Regions from separate parts of the Homo sapiens genome. Here region 2 is linked to region 1. A link means that fine-mapping ties the variant in region 1 to the expression of a gene that starts in the linked region. Tissue or cell type: whole blood. Region 1 holds a variant in brackets; the other region holds the start of a gene. All regions are shown on one strand. Distances are between the middles of the regions.

The links. PIP is the estimated chance that this variant, and not a neighbour inherited with it, causes the effect.
Region 2: ACSL5 starts here. The variant in region 1 is fine-mapped to the expression of ACSL5 in whole blood (INTERVAL, PIP 0.91).

What each region holds. Positions count from the first base shown.
Region 1 is chr10:112,404,372-112,412,477 of GRCh38, forward strand. It overlaps ACSL5 (acyl-CoA synthetase long chain family member 5), which reads left to right. Exons shown (of 21, transcript NM_203379.2): 4 at 140-204; 5 at 334-435; 6 at 4,051-4,150; 7 at 5,136-5,314; 8 at 6,092-6,124; 9 at 6,213-6,264; 10 at 7,085-7,158; 11 at 7,531-7,608. Among named protein-coding and RNA genes, the nearest start is that of ACSL5, 34 kb to the left of the region's middle. The variant C/CA (reference allele first, on the strand shown) is at 3,927.
Region 2 is chr10:112,369,583-112,377,688 of GRCh38, forward strand. It overlaps ACSL5 (acyl-CoA synthetase long chain family member 5), which reads left to right and starts at 4,534. Exons shown (of 21, transcript NM_203379.2): 1 at 4,534-4,687. RefSeq lists enhancers at 6,235-6,384, 6,266-6,766, 6,525-6,744, 6,767-7,267.

The sequences.
Region 1 (8,106 bases):
TTTCCTGGACATATAATAGAAGCTCAAATCCTTGTTGGACTTACCCTTTGTGTCTTGCCCCTTCTTAATCTCCTTTTAGCTTCCTTGGTCCAGAGAATTTGCAACTGGAGTTGATTTTCTTTTAATATTATGTTTTTAGACAATGGGCCCTGCTTGGGATATAGAAAACCAAACCAGCCCTACAGATGGCTATCTTACAAACAGGTAAGTTGAGTCCATGTTTTTAGACAGATTCTTTCTAACATAGTATTCTGAACTACAGGATACGATATTGGTCAGTTTTTGGTCTTGACCTCTTCTCTCTCTCTCTCACCCCATCTCTCTTTTTTGTAGGTGTCTGATAGAGCAGAGTACCTGGGTTCCTGTCTCTTGCATAAAGGTTATAAATCATCACCAGACCAGTTTGTCGGCATCTTTGCTCAGAATAGGCCAGAGGTAACTATGTTGAAGTTAACTAAAGGAAATGAGTCAGGGTTAAGTTTAAAAACTTCAAATGCTATTCCCCGTCCAGCATTCCAACACTTGTTAATGCCTTACCAAAGCTATTGTTAAAATTTTCTAATGCTTATTCTACTTGAAAGAGTTACCACTCAGAACCTATTTAATTTCTGGTTAAGTGTCTGGCACTCTCACCTAGGTGTTTGGACTTCTCTTTTTTCTCAGCCTATCATGTGTTTTTTGAAGTCAGTCTGATTGTTACATGAGGAAAATAAGGAAGCTAGGAGGGACCGCCAAATAAGATCTTGAAGATATTGTGGAAAGTATGTATTAGTATTAGAACTGAAACTTGCAATTTGTAATTGAACTAGTAAATTCAGCCATTCATTGCTACTGAGTCTGGCCATAGCTATCTTTCCACAGTGAGTTGGAAGCAGATTTTAGACAGTAAGATGACAGAATCAAGCTTATCTCCAAGTTTTGGTTAAGTCATTAGGCACATTATCCCCAGAGGAAGTCTTTTTATGCTTCAAACGCTCCCTAGAAATGCAGCATATGATACATATAACATACAAAATCTGTGTTAACTGTCTGTGTTATCAGCAAGGCTTCCAGTCGACAGAAGCCATTAGTAGTTAAGTTTTGGGGGAGTTAAGTTCTATGTGGATCTTGTTGAAAGTTCACAAACTGTAAGTCCCATTTCTAATGCTAATACAAATATAAAAATATTCACCAACATTTTTAGGTGAATCTGCATACTCCATTCTTGTCACAGTCAGCCTCAATAGAAAAAGGTTCCCTTGACTCTAGTTTAGGAACTTAACACCTAATCTGATACAGTTAATCCTTGAACAACATGGGGGTTAGGACCACTGCCTATTCAGTAAAAAAATCCACAGATAACCCCCCCAAAACTTAACTACTAATAGCCTTCCTTTATGATAATATAGGTAGTTGATTAACACATATTTTGTATGTTATATGTATTGTATACTGCTTTCTTACAATATAGTAAGCTAGAGAAACAAAAATGTCATTAAGAAAATGATAAGGAAGAGAAAATGTATATACTATTCATTAGGTGGAAGTGGATCATTATAAAGGTCTTCATCTGAGTCATCTTTACCTTGAGTGGGTTGAGGAGGAGGGAGAAGAGAGGTTGGTCTTGCTGTCTCAGACCTGGCAGAGGTGGAAGAGGTAGAGGAGATGGAAAGAGAGGCAGGAAATATAGGCACCCTCAATGTAACTTTTATTGAAAAAAAAAATCCACAAGCAGACCCTTACAGTTCAAACCCATGTGTTCAAGGAGCAACTGTATATTAGTCTGCTAGAACTGCCATAATCTAATACACAGACCATGTGGCTTAAACAACAGAAATTTATTTTCTCACAGTTCTGGAGTCTAGGAATCCAAGGTCAGAGTGTCAGCAGGTTTAGCTTCTCCCGAGGCCTCTCTCCTTGACTTGTAGACAGCCACTTTTTCATTTTGTCTTCACACGGCCTTTTCTCTGTGCACATGTATCCCTCATGACCGTTCTTCTTCATAGAAGGAAGGGATTAGGACCCCACACTTAAAACTTCATTTAACCTTAATTACTTATTTAAAAGCCCTATCTCATATACTGTCACATTGGGGATTAGGGTTTCAACATGAATTTGGGTTGGGCCGGAGGAGGGGTGACAGGGAGACAGGATTCAGTCCATAACATCTACATTGATATTTAAGGCCCATCACTAGCAGATTCCTACCTACCTTTCCAGTTTTATTTCCTGTAGTCTTCAAGCTTGCTAATGTGTATCCACACAATGATGTTATGCTGTCTGTATTAGTTCGTTATCACACTGTTACGAAGAAATACCTGAGACTGGGTAATTTATAAAGGAAAGAGGTTTAATTGACTCACAGTTCTGCAGTGCTGGGGAGGCCTCAAGAAACTTACAATCATGGCGGAAGGGAAAGCAAACATGTCCTTCTTCACATGGTGGCAGGAAAGAAAAGAATGAGAGCAAAGGGGGTGGAAAGCCCCTTATGAAATCAGATCACATGAGAACTCACTCACTGTCACGAGAACAATGTATTAGTCTGTTTTTATGCTGCTGATAAAGACATACCTAAGACCTGGAAGAAGAGGAGGTTTAATTGGACTTACAGTTCCACATGGCTGGTGAGGCCTCAGAATCATGGTAGGAGGCAAAAGGCACTTCTTACATCGTGGCAGCAAGAGAAAATGAGGAAGAAGCAAAAAGTGGAAACCCCTGGTAAACCCATCAGATCTCATGGGACTTATTTACTATCATGAGAATAGCACAGGAAAGACCAGCACCCATGATTGAATTACCTCCCCCTGGGTCCCTCCCACAACACATGGGAATTCTGGGAGATACAATTCAAGTTGAGATTTTATTTTATTTATTTATTTATTTATTTTTTGTGAGACGGAGTTTCACTCTGTTGCCAGGCTGGAGTACAGTGGTGCCATCTCAGCTCACTGCAACCTCCACCTCCCGGGTTCAAGCAATTCTTCTGCCTCAGCCTCCCGAGTAGCTGGGATTACAGGCACATGCCACCACGCCCAGCTAATTTTTGTATTTTTAGTAGAGACAGGATTTCACCATGTTGGCCAGGATGGTCTCAATCTCTTGACCTCGTGATCTTCCCATCTCAGCCTCCCAAAGTGCTGGGATTACAGGCATGAACCACTGCACCCGGCCTCAAGTTGAGATTTGAATGGGTACGCAGCTAAACCACGTCAAACAGTATGAGGGTAACCACCCCCATGATTCAATTACCTCCCACTGGGTTCCTCCCACGACACATGGGGATTATGGGAACTACAATTCAAGATGAGATCTGGATGGGGACACAGCCAAACCATATCACTATTCTTTGTTCATTCACTTCCTTCTTTTAATCTACCTCTACCTCCATAACCAAATCCTACTAGTCCTCTAAAGCCCTGCCCAGTTTTCATCAGTTTCCCACAAGCAGTCCCAAATAGCTTTCCTCACCCTTGAAAGTGATCTCTGACACCCTAAGGCTCCTAATGCCTTCCATACCTCTTACGGATGGAACTTATCACACTCTGCCTTTGTATTCTGGTCTACCTTTGTATTGCAGTTGTCCCTGTGCCTTTCTTATCTCCCTTATTTAATTGTACTTTATAGCAGTATTTACAACTGTCCCTATGGCCCCACAGTGATTTTTTTTTTTACATAAAAGTCAACAAATAAGTAATCCCAGCACTTTGGGAGGCCCAGGTAGGCAGATAGGTTGAGCCTAGGAGTTTTATGCCAGAATGGGAAACATGGTGAAATCCCGTCTCTACAAAAAATACAAAAATTAGCTTGACATAGTGATGTGTGCCTGTAGTTCCAGCTACTCAGGAGGCTGAGGTGGGAGGATTGCTTGATCCTGGAAGGTTGAGGCTGCAGTGAGCTATGATCACACCACTGCACTCCAGCCTGGGCAGCAGAGTGAGGCACTGTCT[C/CA]AAAAAAAAAAAAAAAAGCAAAACAAAACAAGACAAAAAACCAGACAGCATTTGTTGGCTGAATGACTGAACTGGTACTCTTCAGTGTGCCCTCCAGTCCTTACTTGAACTTCTCTCTGTACAGTGGATCATCTCCGAATTGGCTTGTTACACGTACTCTATGGTAGCTGTACCTCTGTATGACACCTTGGGACCAGAAGCCATCGTACATATTGTCAACAAGGGTAAAATTTTGCTGTTACATTACAACTTGATTCTTTCTCAATGCTGAGTATTTCTTCAATTTCTGCTTTTTTGTTTATTTGTTTGTTTGTTTAAGCAAACTTGAAATGCTGTGGTCGGAAAATGTTCAAGTCTTTCTAGTTTTGTAGTACTTAGGATATAATTTTCAGGAAAGCTACAAAAAGCCCATGAAGCAGAGATACACACAGAAAGAAGTTTCAATGACATGCGTCAGGGTGACATGGTATGATGATATAGAGACAAGACTACTCACTCTGAACACACTAGATAAAAGCCCAGAGAGTGAGCTTAATTGACTTAATCACAGTAAAGCTACAGATTTAATTTCCTACCTTTGTAAATCCAAGTCAATACAGTTAACCAGCATGTACCAATGTCCATGGTGAGTCTGCAGAAAATAATTGTCGTTGTTAGAGAAACAAGTCCAAATTTGATGGGCAAGTAACAGCCCTTTCACATATCCAACATGTTACCTTCTGTCATGGGACTAGTAGATTAAGTGAGTAAGTCCATTTGCACAGTAAACATCATTTGAAACTTTAAACATGCATCAAAGCAAATGCTAAAATTTAGAATTGTAAAATACTTGTCAGCTAAAAATCCTATTTGCCCCCTTCTTTTTCTTCTATTCCCTACTATCCTCCTCAAATAAAACAGTGATAGAACCACACCTCAGTAACCTGTTTAGGTTATCTGAATGACTTCTTAAGCAGAAGGAATTCTGTGGTTCCTCTAGAAACTGTAAAATCTGCTGGCACAGTTCAAGAACATGTGCTTCTGTTTCAGTTAAGTTCATTTATCATCAATGGAATGTTTCAGGTTGTACATTATAAATCTGATTTGCAGGTGTAATCTCCTTTGGACACCTGTTAGCTTTGAAAACTTTTAAAACCTCTTCCTTCTTGCAAGGCAATCAGGTACTTAGCAGAGAGAGGGAATGACCTCTGGTTCTATTTTGGCTTCCAGCTGATATCGCCATGGTGATCTGTGACACACCCCAAAAGGCATTGGTGCTGATAGGGAATGTAGAGAAAGGCTTCACCCCGAGCCTGAAGGTGATCATCCTTATGGACCCCTTTGATGATGACCTGAAGCAAAGAGGGGAGAAGAGTGGAATTGAGATCTTATCCCTATATGATGCTGAGGTATGGATCTGAAATTTAGCTTGCAGCTCCAATGCTTGTCCAACACCTTGGGCAACTTGCAAGATACCTTCCCAAGAGGACAGTGTTCTTGTTCTCCAGGGGTGGCACGTGAGGAGTAGATTAGACTCATGCTGTGAAGCTCTGAGAATAATTTCCACAAGACAACTTTGAAACTCATGCCAGGAGAGGACAAAGTTCTGTGGCCAGCTGTATGGACTTCTAAGTGGATAATATATAAATAGGGGTTTAGTAATAGTTAAAGGATGTGGCTCCTGGAGCCAGGCTGCTTGGGTTCGCATGCCAGCTCCACATCTGTTAGGCAACCTTGGGCAATCTCATCTCCCTTCTCTCGGTCCGTAAAATGGTGATAAAAATAATCACTACCTCACAGAGGTCTTGTAAAGAGTTAGCTTAATTCATATATGTAGATTTCTCAGGACAGTGATGGATATGTAATAAGCTCTGAAAATGTTAGCTATTCATTTCTTTCAAAAAAGATTTAGTTAGGGCCCTAGATGACTGAAACTTAAGAGTACAATGGGAAGTTTGAACATGCAATCTACCCTCTATAGGTAGATGATTTTCTAGAGAAATCTTATGCTCTTCCCTGGGGCTTCCATTGTTCCTGAATGTTGGCTTCTGGTCCTGATCCAGGTTGGAATTTTGCTTATATTCCCATAGAGATGTTCTCACGGGAAAGGGAGGGAGAGGGCCACATTTATCACAGTCTGTCCATCTCAACTAATGTCTTTCTTTCTTGGTTTTCCATTCACATAGAACCTAGGCAAAGAGCACTTCAGAAAACCTGTGGTAAGTTTTCTTCTGCCTGAATTTGAGCCTTGCCATAGTCAACTCTCAAAGTTCATGGTGGAATAAGCCCTTGTGCTTCCTCCTCCAGCCTCCTAGCCCAGAAGACCTGAGCGTCATCTGCTTCACCAGTGGGACCACAGGTCTGTGCCCATGAAACTGAACCTTAGACCCCTGGTCAGCCAAGAACATGGCTTCAATTCTTGGCCACTGGTAGGCTGGTAAATACTCCCTCTAAAGAGCCCTATACTTAGGGGCTCACAGCCTAAGGCTTCTAAGTGTGAATTCCCAAATGGAAAAACATAAACATAAGTAAATACACTTTATTTAATATATTGGGAGGTGTTTATATTCAATAGATTTCAGGGGTCTTAAAGATGATGTCAGAAAGTCCTTTCCCCCGCCCCCACCAACCCACCACTCTCTTGATTTGACACCGCTGGAATGGTTTCATTCAATCAAGATAACTCAGTGATAGTTCTCCATAAAGGGCTTCAACCCCACCCTACATCCACCCATCTGTTAGAATGCTTAATAGTTTTTAATGTGGTCCATCATGGTCTACAGTTATATTCTTTCTAGTATGCCCAGTTTATAAGGTTTATAACCATATCACTATATAATATTGGTAGATCTGGAATTCCAAACATATAAACAGCATGAGATGTGGGGCAGAGGGACAAGGAGGGTTAACTTGAATTTTTCTTTGCAGCTGTGCTTCTATCTGAAATCATGGCTGTGCTCTGCATAGTAGTAGAAGGCCAACGATGCATTCAGCAGTAGAATCTCCGGGGGCATTAATTATTCCTAAACAGAGGCATATACCATCCACAAAAAGACACAGTGACAGGAAATGCTCTTGGCCTTCTGGAATAAAACCAATTGAATCTAGTTTCTTTCAAGGCCAAAGGCTACCTATTAGCTACATAAAGTATCTTTCTCTCCACCTCTTATTTCCTACAGGTGACCCCAAAGGAGCCATGATAACCCATCAAAATATTGTTTCAAATGCTGCTGCCTTTCTCAAATGTGTGGAGGTCAGTGGTCAGTTGAAAAAGAGGCTCTCATTAAAATGTGAATCTGTCATAAGATTTTTATTTTTGAGGTTAGAGCAGGCAGACACACACACACACATACACACACACACACACACACGTTAAAGGCTGGAGTGTGGACAAACACCAGCGTGTTCTTTGTTTAGAGGACTGTACATTTTCAAGCGTTGGTCTTTTAGGATCACTGCAAATTTCTACACTATATGCAGTTCAAGGCATCTCAGATCTACACAGTGTACCGCCTATACAGCTGTCTGTGGTAGTCCTGGGAGGAGGTAGTTTTAAAATCTCCATTGGAATTGAAAGTTGGCATTAATCTCATGTTGCCTCCTCTTACTTCCCTGGCCTACATAGCATGCTTATGAGCCCACTCCTGATGATGTGGCCATATCCTACCTCCCTCTGGCTCATATGTTTGAGAGGATTGTACAGGTGAGTGTTCTGTGTTCCTAGCAGTATGTGGCAAGGGGGTCCTGACTTGCTATCACATGTTTATTCCAAAGGCAGCTACACAGTATTTACTGTTCTTTCTCCGGTGTGAGAGGTGCAGGCAAGGAGTTGGCTCATGGGAGCCCTAATCATGGCATGGCCCCTCATTTCCTGCAGAGTCTTCCTCTGCTAAGTCTGCATGTGTCCAGGGAGGATAGTACTTGCTCCTGCCTTCATGGGGGTGTGTGAGTCTAGTGACATCACAGCTAGGAGCTTACTATCTATCTGCCCTTAATTCTGAGCTGACACAAGACATTGTCTTCTTTTTAAATTTTATTTTGGTTAGAATTTTTGAAAAGATCTAGGATTAGAGAAAAGGAAGTTCCCTACAGAGGATCAGGGAAGGAGCATTTGATCTACATAAGGTGTGAGATGTCCCCCGCGCCGGTTTTTGCACACCTGAGTGTGTAAGGTGGTGCTGTCAGCATGGTGCATACCGGA
Region 2 (8,106 bases), 35 kb before region 1:
GTCACCTGACCAAATACAGTAAGTGAGAGGTGACAGCGTGCTGGCAGCCCTCACAGCCCTTGCTTGCTCTTGGCGCCTCCTCTGCCTTGGCTCCCACTTTGGCGGCACTTGAGGAGCCCTTCAGCCCGTGCTGCACTGTGGGAGCCCCTGCCTGGGCTGGCTGAGGCTGGAGCCGGCTCCCTCAGCTTGCGGGGAGGTGTGGAGGGAGAGGCGCGGGCAGGAACCGGGGCTGTACGCGGGGCTTGTGGGCCAGCGAGAGTTCCGGGTGGGCGTGGGCTCGGCAGGCCCCGCACTCAGACCAGCAGGCCTGCCCCGCTGGCCCCCGGCAGTGAGAGGCTTAGCACCTGGGCCAGCAGCTGCTGTGCTTGACTTCTCGCTGGGCCTTAGCTGCTGCCTCCCTGTGGGGCAGGGTTCGGGACCTGCAGCCTGCCATGCTTGAGCCTTCCCCCACCCAACCCCACCAGCCATGGGCTCCTGCACAGCCAGAGCCTCCCCGACGAGCACCGCCCCCTGCTCCACGTTGCCCCTTCCCATCGACCTTCCAAGTGAGAGGTGACAGCATGCTGGCAGCCCTCACAGCCCTCGCTCGCTCTGGGCACCTCCTCTGCCTGGGCTCCCACTTTGGCAGCACTTGAGGGGCCCTTCAGCCCACTGCTGCACTGTGGGAACCCCTTCCTGGGCTGGCTGAGGCCTGAGCCCGCTCCCTCAGCTTGTGGGGAGGTGTGGAGGGAGAGGCGTGGGCGGAACCGGGGCTGCGCATGGTGCTTGCGGGCCAGCCCGAGTTCCGGGTGGGTGTGGGCTCCGCGGGCCCTGCACTCAGAGCGGCCGGCTGGCCCTGCCGGCCCCAGGCAATGAGGGGCTTAGCACCCCGGCCAGCGGCTGCAGAGGGTGTGCTGGGTCCCCCAGCAGTGCCGGCCCACCAGTGCCGGCCCACCAGTGCTGTGCTGGATTTTTTGCCAGGCCTTAGCTGCCTCCCGGCGGGGCAGGGCTCAGGACCTGCAGCCCGCCATGCCTGAACCTCCCCCACCCTCCGTGGGCTCCTGTGTGGCCGGAGCCTCCCCGACAAGCACCGGCCCCTGCTCCACTGCGCCCAGTCCCATCAACCACCCCAAGGGCTGAGGAGTGCCGGCTCATGGCGCGGGACTGGCAGGCAGCTTCACCTGTGACCCAGTGCTGGATCCACTGGGTGAAGCCAGCTGGGCTCCTGACTGCTGGGGACTTGGAGAACCTTTATGTCTAGCTAAGGGATTGTAAATACACCAATCGGCACGGTGTATCTAGCTCAAGGTTTGTAAACACGCCAATCAGCACCCTGTGTCTAGCTCAGGGTTTGTGAATGCACCAATGGACACTCTGTATCTAGCTACTCTAGTGGGTACTTGGAGAACCTTTGTGTCCACACTCTGTATCTAGCTAATCTAGTGGGGACGTGGAGAACCTTTGTGTCTAGCTCAGGGATTGTAAACACACCAATCAGCACCCTGTTAAAACAGACCACTCAGCTCTCTGTAAAATGGACCAATCAGCAGGATGTGGGTGGGGCCAGATAAGGAAATAAAAGCAGGCTGCCCCAGCCAGCAGTGGCAACCTGCTGGGGTTCCCTTCCATGCTGTGGAAGCTTTGTTCTTTCGCTCTTTGCAATAAATCTTGCTACTGCTCACTCTTTGGGTCTACACTGCCTTTATGAGCTGTAACACTCACCACGAAGGTCTGCAGCTTCACTCCTGAAGCCAACAAGACCACGAACCCACCGGGAGGAACAAACAACTCCAGACGCCCCACCTTAAGGGCTGTAACACTCACCGCGAAGGTCCACAGCTTCACTCCTGAGCCAGTGAGATCACGAACCCACCAGAAGGAAGAAACTCCAAACACATCCGAACATCAGAAGGAACAAACTCCGGACACGCTGCCTTTAAGAACTGTAACACTCACCGCCAGGGTGTGCAGCTTCATTCTTGAAGTCAGTGAGACCAAGAACCCACCAATTCCAGACACACAAAGGCTGAGGAGTGTGGGCACACGGTGTGGGACTGGCAGCCAGCTCCACCTGTGGCCACGGTGCGGGATCGACTGGGTGAAGCCAGCTGGCCTCCTGAGTCTGGTGGGGACTTGGAGAACCTTTATGTCTAGCTAAGGGATTATAAATACACCAATCGGCACTCAGTATTTGGCTCAAGGTTTGGAAACACACCAATCAGCACCCTGTGTCTAGCTCAGGGTTTGTGAATGCACCAATGGACACTCTGTATCTAGCTACTCTGGTGGGGACTTGGAGAACCTTTATGTCTAGCTAAGGGATTGTAAATACACCAATGGGCACTCTGTATCTAGCTCAAGGTTTGTAAACACACCAATCAGCCCCCCGTGTCTAGCTCAGGGTTTGTGAATGCACCAATTGACACTCTGTATCTAGCTACTCTGGTAGGGACTTGGGTAACCTTTATGTCTAGCTAAGGGATTGTAAATACACCAATTGGCACTCTGTGTCTAGCTCAAGGTTTGTAAACCATTCAGCACCCTGGTCTAGCTCAGGGTTTGTGAATGCACCAATCGACACTCTGGATCTAGCTAATCTAGTGGGGACATGGAAAACTTTTGTGTCAACACTCTGTATCTAGCTAATCTAGTGGGGACATGGCGAACTTTTGTGTCTAGCTCAGGGATTGTAAACACACCAATCAGCACCCTGTCAAAACGGACCAATCAGCTCTCTGTAAAACAGACCAATCGGCTCTCTGTAAAATGGACCAATCAGTAGGATGTGGGTGGGGCCAGATAAAAGAATAAAAGCAGGCTGTCCGAGCCCGGAGTGGCAACCACCTGGGGTTCTTTTCACACTGTGGAAGGTTTGTTCTTTAGCTCTTTGCAATAAATCTTGCTACTGCTCACTCTTTGGGTCTACGCTGCTTTTATGAGCTGTAATGCTCACTGCAAAGGTCTGTAGCTTTACTCCTGAGCCAGCAAGACCACAAACCCACCAGAAGGAAGAAACTCTGAACACATCTGAACATCAGAAGGAACAAACTCTAGACACACCGCCTTTAAGAACTGTAACACTCACTGCGAGGGTCCGCGGCTTCATTCTGGTAGCTAAACATACACAGATCAATGGGGCAGCATAGGGGCCAAGGCACTGCAGGGGTTCTCATGACTCTGAGTCAGGTGCTGTCTTGACCGACTGGTTGTGTGATTCCAGAAGCCTTCTTTCACCTGAAAAGGCCTCACTGGCCTCACCTATACAGTAAGTTTGCACATCATCTCCAGGGTTTCTTTCATTTCTACCCACTGTTTTTGTTTAGTAATGATGCCTTGCAGTCCTAATGATCTTGGAATCAAGAATGGTGACTAGAGAACTTCAAAGTGGAAAGAGAGGCTGGGCATGGTGGCTCATGCCTATAATCCCAGCACTTCGGGAGGCCGAGGCAGGCAGATCACTTGAAGTCAGGAGTTCGAGACCAGCCTGGCCAACATGGTGAAACCCTGTCTCTGCTAAAAATACAAAAAAAAAAAAAAAAATTAGCCAGGCATTGTGGTGCATGCCTGTAATCCCAGCCACTCCAGAGGCTGAGGCAGGAGAATTGCTTGAACTCAGGAAGTGGAGGTTGCGGTGAGACTCCGTCTCAAAAAAAAAAAAAAAAAAAAAAAAGGAGAGAGTAGGATGGCTGAGCCATGACGCAGTAGCAATGCTTCTTTTTTTTTTTTTTTTTTTGAGACAGAGTCTCGCTGTGTCGCCCAGGCTGGAGTGCAGTGGCGCGATCTTGGCTCACTGCAAGCTCCACCTCCCGGGTTCACACCATTCTCCTGCCTCAGCCTCCCAAGTAGCTGGGACTACAGGGGCCCACCACCACGCCCGGCTAATTTTTTGTGTATTCAGTAGAGACGGGGTTTCACCGTGTTAGCCAGGAAGCAATGCTTCCTATTCTAGCGCCTTGCTAAACTATGTGTGCTGCAGACTGTGTTCGTGATTCCGAATCCTAAAAACAACCGTCCTAGGCTTGTCTCTCAGCCTAGACTCTAGACTGATTTGGCTCATTTGGTTGTCTTGGAGACGTTCTAATTCTGAAGGGGGCAGTGGTCCCTTCTAGAAGATAGCTGGTCTGCAAATGCACACCTCTGCTTAGTCTGAATCCTAAAGTTATAGCTTGAGCCAATTAAAGTGGCTTCTCATTTTTCTCTCACTCTGATCTCAAGGAGCCCTTTTTCTTCTAGTAATCTAGACCTTCCTCTTCCTATCACAGTCTCAAGGATTGTGCCCCCAAAGCAGATGCAAAGCCCTGTCTACCCCTTCTCCTTCCCCTGAGGTAGAGCTTTATCGAAGGTTTCTCTTGGTAAACGTTAGCTTTCTGAACTAAGGGCCGTCTTTTTTTTTTTTCCCGCTTAAGCCCATTGCATAACAATCTCTTGTTTTAATCTTTTGCCCAACACTGCTTTTCTTACTGTCAGAGGTTACTACAAGTGTTTGAACAGGTAACTTCTACCTTTGAACTTCTGTTGTGACAGATTCAAAGGTTCCAGGGGAGTGTGTTGGCCACTCTCAGGACAGTACACAGTAGCTTCGGGTGTGTCCCAGTCAGTCCTAGGAGCTGTGGAAAGAGTAGAAGTGCCTGAATGTGGTGCTGAATCAATACAGCCAGCTGTGAGGGGAGCACTTCCTGGACCCAGGAAGGGAGAGTCTTCTTCCAAGGTAAGCTGCAATGATACTACCTGCACTATATTGAATATATCTGTGAGATAGTAGGGAGGGGATTGGTGTGGGGAAAGAAAGTGGGATTTGTTATGCTCAACCTAAGGCTCTTTAATAACATGAAATTACATTTAGTTGAATAGTAATCTCAGCTGACTTGTGTGGGAGGCAAAGAAAAAAATCAGTTGGAAAAGGGGTGGAGATATATGAGCTATCCAAATGCTAGCAGGGGATGGAATTGGAAGGGAACACTGATTTTGGTAAGTGTACTAAAGCACACCAAGCCAGAATGTGGGTCTCCTTCATCTTCCATTAAGAAATTTCTGTCTCAGTGTAGTTAGAAGGATCGTGCGTCAGCTGCTGAGGGCAGAGAGTCCCATTTGGCAGACAGAGAGGAAGGGAATCAGCAGATATTCGATTAGGTGCTGGGGACTGTTCTGGGTAGATTATGTATGTTACTTCATTGGTGTATCTCATCCTATAAAGCAGGTGGTATCCTTCCCATTTCACAGAGGCATAGTGCGTCTCCAGGCTGTTAAACAGCATGGCCTAAGCTACATAGCTCCAAGGTGGTGTGGCTAGAATTTGAGACTTGATTGGTCAGTTTCCACAGCCTGCCCAATAATGCAGAATTGTTGTGGGTTGCCAAAGCTTTCAGTTACCCCCTGAAATCCTGAGGGTGTCACTCATGTGCACAGAGGATTGATAGGAATACAACTCTGATGGGCCTTTAGAATGACTCAACCTTCCTGAACTTGAGCATTTTTACTGGAGGAGGTCAATAAAAAAAAAAGAAATAAAACCTCATCTTCCCCTGGCCCTGAGCCCTTTGGTGAAGGAAGACAGCACCCGGTGAAGGGCTCAGAGGTATTAGTGTGGCTGAGATTCGACACCCACTCTGCCATCCTCTGCTCTCCTCTAGAGGAAGTTGCCTCTTGGGGAGCTGAGTTCCTGAAACTAAGCAAATGACAAGTGCTCCTCCAGCCGTGAGATGAGCCAGAGGATGGAATGCCACAGGCCCCACTTCGTCTCCCAGCCCTTCATCTTTCTTCCATGTCCAAAGGCGGCTCCCCAGAGGCCAAGGGCTCAGCTCTTGTGTTCTCTGAGACTGTGGCACAGCTCACCCTGGCTTCCTTAGTAGGAAGCTTTTAAGAACTGCTCTGTAGAAAGAACAAACCCTAATCTAGCTCCAGCAAAGAGCCAGGATCATGCTGAACTTCCTGTGAGCCTTCGTGGGGGATCGAGGCTGGAGAAAGTGCTGCTTCATTCTGAGGTATCTGTGAGGTGGGGAAGGGGCAGGAAAATTTGTCATTTCGGCTTCCTAATCTGAGAATGGTAGCTCCAGGGCCCCCCTGTAGCCACAGCCTTAGGCGGATCAAAAATGAGACTAATACAGGTCCTGGTAATACTGGGGGTGACCAAGGCGAAAGAATCGATTTTTAAGTTAAGTTTTGAGGTGTGACTGTATCAGAGGGAAAGAAACCATGCCAATTGAACGACTCACAGCCCTGTCGTTCCTGACTTGCTTATTTTCTTGGCTTTGCCAGAACTTCTTCAGAGACCAAGGCAGGCAGCTCTGGCGACTGGAGAGAGGCGGGGTAGAAGGTGTTTGTGTGGGTCTGAGGGCTGAGGTACCCTCTAGCCAGACTTTCCTGTCCTCCGAATCCAGCAGGGAACAGCGTCACCTCTGCCTCTGTGAGGCTTCTGATCTGAGGGGGCACCTCAAGTCATTTTAGTTTGTTTGTTTTCATCTTAGTTGAAAGATGATAGGCCACAGGAGGGCAGGGTCAACTGTGTTGAGGCAAGCTGGCTTTTGTGTCGGCCCTTAGGGGCTGAGGTGAAAGGCTTTGACACGGAGCCAGGGTAGCTTTGGCAGCTTCTCCCCTCCTGGTCAGAACACTTCCACTTTCAGTTGTGAAAAAAAAAATTAAAACCAGGAAGTGAAGTCCCCGAGCACGTTAGAAAGCCTGACATGGCCTGACTCGGGACAGCTCAGAGCAGGGCAGAACTGGGGACACTCTGGGCCGGCCTTCTGCCTGCATGGACGCTCTGAAGCCACCCTGTCTCTGGAGGAACCACGAGCGAGGGAAGAAGGACAGGGACTCGTGTGGCAGGAAGAACTCAGAGCCGGGAAGCCCCCATTCACTAGAAGCACTGAGAGATGCGGCCCCCTCGCAGGGTAAGGGGACCATCGAGGGGGTGTTATTCAGCAAGGGGGTCTTGTGAGGGTGTGACAGAGGCCAAGGGGGCATCCTGACCCCCGACTTTCTTTAAGCGACTTAGAATCAAGGGCCGGCTGAGTTCCACGGGCACATCATGCTGTCTCCCTCCTGGTCTCGGTCATGCCTTCAGACCCTGTGTCAGGAGGAGCAACGGGAAGGAAGGATGTGGGGCATGCATGGGGCTCACTTTCCTTCTCTCGACTCTCTTGGGGAAGGTGAACCAAAACAGAGACCTCTTTTTGTGGGTCTGAGCATCCAGCATAGCTCCCCTGAGGTGGGCTGGGGGTTTGCCCTCAATTTTATGTTGGGTAAGACTGATGAATGAGACCAATGGGGTGGGAGAGACAGATGAATGGAGCTGAGTGTATTTTAGGAAGTAAGGCCACAGGTTAAGTCTCAGGTGCTGCTTAATTCCTAAGTACTTCCTTCCCAATGCCCACTCCCTGAGGGTCCTAAGGTGAATCTCAAAGACCCTCAGGGAGTAAGCACTGGAAAGGGACTCTACCACTGGAGACCCTCAGGGAATAAGCACTGGAAAGGGACTCTACCACCGGAGACCCTCAGGGAATAAGCACTGGAAAGGGACTCTACCACCGGAGACCCTCAGGGAATAAGCACTGGAAAGGGACTCTACCACCGGGGCTTGGTACCTTCTGAGATATCAGCCTTTTTTTGGTGGTCTGAAAGGTAGAATTGAATCTATAGCTCCAATGTGTAGGTGATTAGTATTCTATATCAGAGGCAGAGTCTTAAAAAATAAAGTTAAGGCCGGGCGCAGTGACTCACACCTGTAATCCCAGAACTCTGGGAGTCTGAGGTGGGTGGATCACCTGAAGTCAGGAGTTAGAAACCAGCCTGGCCAACATGGCGAAACCCCATCTCTACTGAAAATACAAAAATTAGCTTGGCGTGGTGGCGTACGCCTGTAATCCCAGCAACTCAGGAGGCAGGACAATTGCTTGAACCTAGGAGGCGGAGGTTGCAGTGAGCCGAGATGGCACCACTGCACTCCAGTTTGGATGACAGAGCAAGACTCTGGCTCAAAAACAACACACAAACAAACAAATAAAAAAACATTGAAAACTGACTTAGTTTTCTTTTAAAAAAGGAGTAATTGGTTTTGTTTATTTCTCCCTTCATATTCTGATATGGAGTCACTCTGTGGTAGTCCCCTCCGATTGATCAGTATTCAAGGTT